Linked DNA regions of Homo sapiens: region 2 is linked to region 1. Evidence: fine-mapped expression QTL. A gene starts in region 1. The other region holds a variant in brackets. All regions are shown on one strand. Distances are from middle to middle. Region 1 holds the start of MINAR1 (membrane integral NOTCH2 associated receptor 1). Region 2 has its middle 47 kb from the start of TMED3.

Region 1 (2,908 bases):
CAGCTCTGTTCGGTAACTCGGTGGCAGGGAAGGAGGTGGGGTGGTGGGGGTGGGGGTGTTGCTTTCCTTTTGAAATGAGATTCCATGGCCCCGAAACTATGATTCCCTCCCTCACCCTTTTTGTTTGTGTTGTTCTTGTCTTGGGGATGCAAAGTGCTGTTAACGTGAGCTTCCCCAGCCACAGGGACAGGATCTGTCTAGATGGGGCCACCAGAGGCAGCTGCTGTGTTTCGGCTCCACTCCAGCACACAGGGTGACACGGAAGGCCTCCATTTCTGATCCATGTATCCAGTAAGCTTTTGGAAACCCATCCCAGTTTCGTGGGGTTTGGGGGTGTGTGAATGAGTGAGTATGTGTGTGTGTGTGGGGGGGGAGAGAAACAGGGAGGGGTGGTCACGTGACAGTCTTTCCAATCTGGATCCCAATTAAGCCGACACCAGCCAAAAGAAGAAATCAGTGAGTGAAGTGACCACTTGGCCCTGGCCTTGCAAACCACTGCAGAGTCCGAAGCCCCGAGTGCTCCCTGGGAAGAGGAGAGCCGAGGACACTCTTCGCCCCTGCTTGCCACTGGGGGCCGCAGTCACCTTCAGCATAGGGGAGTGGGGAGACGCGAACCCCGCGGGTGGCTCCGGGTGGTGGGCTCCCTCCAGCGCGCAGCTTCCGCTCGCTTTCCCCTCGGCGCTGCAGCCGCGACCTGGGACCGAACGGACACCGCCTTCCCGGGGCTCCGGCGGCGCTCTGACTCCCACTTTCCTCCGCCGCAGCCTCTGGCAGGGCACCCCCTTGGCGCGACGCCGCGCCCCTCCCCGGGACCGCCCCCTCGGTCCCCCAGGGTGCGCTCAGTTGCTGCCCGTGCGCCCCGCCAGCTTGAGCGCCCCGGGCGGGCGGCGGTGGAGAAGCCCAGCCCAGCTCTCCCCAGCCGCGTTCCCGGCCCGCGCTGCTCCCAGCCTGCAAGCCCATGACGTGGCGACGCCGACCGAGACACAAAGACCGAGGCTGAGACCGCCAGGGGTTGAGGGTGAGGCCGCGTCCCGGGGCCGCTGGAGCGCGGGCGTCATGCGAGACTGTCCCGGCTGCGCGCCGCCCCAGAGGAGTCCGAGCGCCCCCTTCAGCCGCGGCGCGCTGGCCCTGGCCGGGACTGCAGCCAGGTGGGCGCCGCGCGTGTGAGCGCCGCGCGTGTGAGCGCAGACCTGGACTCGGGCGGCGGAGGCGAAAGTCGCTCCATCCGCGGGGTGCAACCCTGGGCGCGGAATCCGGGCTGCCGGGTGACAGTGACCAGCTGACTCTGGAGCCTACCGGAGGCGCGGCATCGGAGGCCGTGCGGACCACTGCCGAACAGCCGCTGGAGACCCGCAGAGAAGGGCGGGCCCTGCGCCCGGGGCGCCTCGGAGGTAAGTTCGGAGAGCCCGGGCCGGGCGGAGGGCGGGAGCGCACGAGTGTGTGTGTGTGTGTGTGTGTTCGCGGTGTGCCCGCGGCTCGGTGCACACGCGCGCGGGTTGTAAAGTCAGGAGCTGCGGGAGCGCCTCCCTGCCTCGGCTTGGCCCCGGAGCATTGCGGGCCGCGGAGGTGTGGGGGCCCTTGTCGCTGCGCTCAGGGCAGCGGCGGAAAAGGTGTGTGCGGATGCGGGGCGGGGCCGCACCTGGTGGACAGAGCAGGGATTCGGGAAGAGAAGCCACGGAAGATGATCATGCAGTTTGGGGCAAGTTTTCCTGGTTGAGCATCGCTTCAGGAAACGGTGTTTTGAGGGTTAAATATGTGAGCTATCTGTGCAAAAAGCCTGACACATCAGAGGCGCGAAGTAAGATGGAAAGCTGGACAAGCCCCAGGTGGACCGACCGGTGCATCCAATTCTTAAATTGAGATTTCCAGTCACGTTGATGTGGAATGGGATCGTTGTTCTTCCCGAGGGTTTGATAAGGATGCTCAACTTCACCTGTCAGAAAGCACGGGAGCTGGGCCTGGCCCGCGGGGAGCGTAAGCTCGCTCACACGCGGTCCAACTCAGGCAAATGCAGCATGCCCGACCTGCTCTGCCGCCATCCCTCCGAAAGCGATAATTTCCTTGGGCTACCGAATCCATCAGAGTAGTCATTTGTCCCCTCGCCGGCGGTGCGGGGAGCGTAACATTTGAGTAGCCTAACTCTCACAGCGCGCACTCCAGCATTGTTTTGCTGGAAGATTGTTACTGTGGTAAGCGGCTGGTAGCCTGTGTTAAGCAGCAGGGAAGATAAGGTTGTGTTCAGGTGCGCTTAATTCAGCGGGAATTAAGTTATGTTTGGTGAAGATCTAAGGAGAGGAAAAATCCAGAGTTTCTGCTATAAACAATGTACATCTATCTTAAAGGCTTCTCACCCATTTCTCTTGTGGATGGAGCCATGTGGTTGGGAGGTGGTAGAACCATGCCGCCATCCCTGAGGCTGTGGTTGGAGGCCTCATTGCTGGGCTCTGCAATTTTATGCTCTGTGATATTATGCATGGCATGAAGAGTTGCTAGGAGGAGTGTGGAAGCAGCTTATGTGGCCAGTTATGCATCCTTTATTCCAGCAAACGAGCTGCCACTGCTACCTCTCTCTGATGGAGAGGGACGGTAAATGGCCCTTCCTTGTCATTTCTCAGACACCAGCATTACTGGGCCCGCCCTGCAGGTGGAAGCTAGCTCACTGCTGTGGCCACAGGATGTCTTTTGAATTGACCCTCATTGAGAGCCCGGCGGCAATATTTTGGGTATTGTTGAAATAAGAGAAGTGGATTAGAGAGAGTAGGATGCCTGGAGTTGTACAATACCCTTTAATGGGTTTTCCTCTTGTGTATCAGAGGAGGGTAGAGCAGGAGACGGTGGTGAGTCTGCAGAGAGGGCAAACTTAGAGATTTTCTCAGGCTACTGGAGCCTGGAGGGAAAAACCTTAAAT
Region 2 (2,908 bases), 74 kb before region 1:
GACATAGACAAGTGTGCTTGATCTATTCCGGGAAACAAGGGAAAGCAAACTGAAAAACAGAATGTGTAGTATGAACCCATTTAAAATAAAAAGAATATACACATAAACACAGTTATGAACAAACATATAAACATATACAAATATGCATATGTTTATATGTGTATGAGCATTTGAAAAGATACACCAGCTTAATAGCTAATACTTCTGGAGAAGAGGATCCATTTTCTATGTTATACTCTTTCATATTTTAAAAAAACAAGCACACGGCTGGGCATGGTGGCTCGTGTGTATAATCCTGGCATTTTGGGAAACTGAGGTGGGAGGATCGCTTGATCCCAGGAATTCAAGACCAGCCTGGGCCACATAGTGAGACTCCCATTTCTACAGAAAAAAAAAAAATTGCCAAGCATGGCAGTGCATGCCTGTGGTCCTAGCTACTTGAGACGCTGAGGCAGTAGGATTGCTTAAGCCTGGGAGGTTGAGGCTGCAGTGAACTGTGATTGTGCCACTGCACTCCACCCTGCCTCAAAAAAAAAAAAAAAAAAAAAGCAAGCACATTATTACATTATTAATTTTAGAATTTAAACTTTTTTTTTTTTTAAAGCAGAACACGTCTTCTTGAACTAGTGTTATACCTCCTTCTCCTTGGGGTCCTATTGTCTGTGAATGTAGGCTCATCTCCTACTGGGAGGACTGCCGTGCTGGGGGCATTTGGAGTCTGGGCCACTGTAGAGGGAGCTGGCGGCCCTCCGCTCTGTGTATTGAGTCCACTCTGATTTCAGTTGATTGCAAAGGCAGTTGGAAGAACACTGGCTGGGAAATCAGGAAGCATGGCTGTACTTCTTAGTAGTTGCAAAGGACTGAAAAACTCACTTCCCTTTTCTGAGCCTCAGCTTTCCCATCTGGGAAGTTAATGCATTGGTTTATACCATTGTTTAAGTCCCTGCATGCCATCATACCCTAGGATTCTTTGGTCTTGTGAGTCTAAGTCTCCAATTGCTCTGTTTGAAAATTCTGTATCAACATCCTTCTTGGGAGATGTAACACACTATTAATGTACCCGTCTCGGCTTCTCTGTGAGCATACGTTCATTTATCAGATAAATCAGCAATCAGCAAGTTGACCCTAACGGGATGGGCCACTGAAGCATGCCTGTTTATGTCATGAGGGGAAGACCAGAGTATGGAGGTCAGTCCTACTCGTTGTCTTCCATCAGAGGCCCAAGGCACTGGATAGC[G/A]CAGTGAGCAGAGCCAGGCTGGGAGGAGGCTGTGTCCGAGGAATTTTCTGGGGGCCTGCTGTCTCACAACCCTGTGAACAGCCAGGAGAAGCAGACAGCTGCAAGGTCAGGACTTGAGGCCAGCACCTTCAAGTGTGACATCATTTTGCCACTTCAAAGCATAAAACTTTAAATGGCTCACTTTTTATTTCTGAGGTTTCAGACAACAACCCTACTGTGTGTGTCTAGGCAAATGGTTCAGGGATGCTGCTGACAGAAGAAAATTATGTTTGGCTGTGGATTGCAGTCTAGACTGAGCAGGTTGAGAGTGACTGGTACCTGGCTGGGATGGAAGCTGGGGATGGTGGGGGTGGAGTCTGTCTCTTGTGACAGCCATCTGTAGGATCCAACTTCAAGATTAGGAGGTTAACAGAAGCATCCCTCAGGCCCATCCCGAAGGAGATCACGGGTCCACCCTAGGACCTCTGACCACTGCCTTCCAGTTAACAGTATTTCCATCAGTGGATATTCAGCAAAGAAAAAATACTTTCTAAGACCCCAACATTTTCTTATTTGCCTGATGCTTAAAACGAAATTTCATAGAAAGCAGGCAGCTTCCATGCAGCTTTCCCTGGGGTGAAATGGCTGGGCCTATTTGCTCCTTGAAGGAAAAGTTTGCTGTGAACTTCTCAGATAAGTGGGTGGTGGATAGCAGGGACAGGAGAGCCGTGGCCTGGACAGGGTTCCTGATTCCTCCAGTCTGGATCAGTCTGAGGATAACTAAGAAAGGGAGTGGGGATGGGAAGGGGCTTTTTGCATGCCAAACCTGCATCTACTGGGAGTGCAGTGGCTGGAACAAGAGAGAGTGCAGCAGCACCTCATCTATCAGGAGTACAGCTCTGGCCATCCCAGGAGAGGCACTCAGACAAATTGGATTCTGCCCACGGGGGAAGACAAGGGAAGTGAGGAGGCTTATGTAGCTGGAAGGAACAAAATTGCAACTCAAAACAAAAGTGGACTGTGTGCTTATTTGCATACCAGAGGAGAGGTACAGTTTATTTGAAGGAGAAGGCTCAGTTTTTTTTTTTTTTTTTTTTGAGACGGAGTCTTGCTCTATTGCCCAGGCTGGAGTGCAGTGGCGCAATCTCAGCTCACTGCAACCTCCGCCTCCCAGGTTCAAGCCATTCTCCTGCCTCAGCCTCCCAAGTAGCTGGGATTACAGGCACCCACACCATGCCTGGCAAATTTTTGTATTTTTAGTAGAGACAGGGTTTCACCATTTTGACCAAGTCTCGAACTCCTGACCTCAAGTGATCTGCCCACCTCAGCCTCCCAAAGTGCTGGGATTACAGGCATGAGCCACTATACCCGGCCAATTTGAAGGGGAAGGCTCCTTATATAGAAAAATCAGCTGAGAGGTGAGTCTCCCTGTCCAGGGCATGACCTTTTTAAGGGTAAGGGGAAAAAAAGAGGAATAAACAGCTCCACAAATAAATGGTATAGAATTTGGGAGTTGTTTCTGACAGCTGAAGAGATTGAGAGATCAAGGTCTCAGAAAATGGAGAGAAAGCACGTATAGTATCAAAAAGTTAACAATCAGCTGATCACACCAAGCAAAAGGAATAAGTGAGTAAATACAAGTAAAGCCCTTATTATTATACATGCCTGGAATAGCGAAAGCCCTAGGTAGTA

What was found. PIP is the estimated chance that this variant, and not a neighbour inherited with it, causes the effect.
Region 2: its variant is fine-mapped to the expression of MINAR1 in blood mononuclear cells (TOPMed, PIP 0.91).

The regions. Positions count from the first base shown.
Region 1 is chr15:79,431,150-79,434,057 of GRCh38, forward strand. It overlaps MINAR1 (membrane integral NOTCH2 associated receptor 1), which reads left to right and starts at 1,187. Exons shown (of 4, transcript NM_015206.3): 1 at 1,187-1,391.
Region 2 is chr15:79,356,938-79,359,845 of GRCh38, forward strand. It overlaps a transcript of TMED3 not described here. Among named protein-coding and RNA genes, the nearest start is that of TMED3, 47 kb to the left of the region's middle. The variant G/A (reference allele first, on the strand shown) is at 1,238.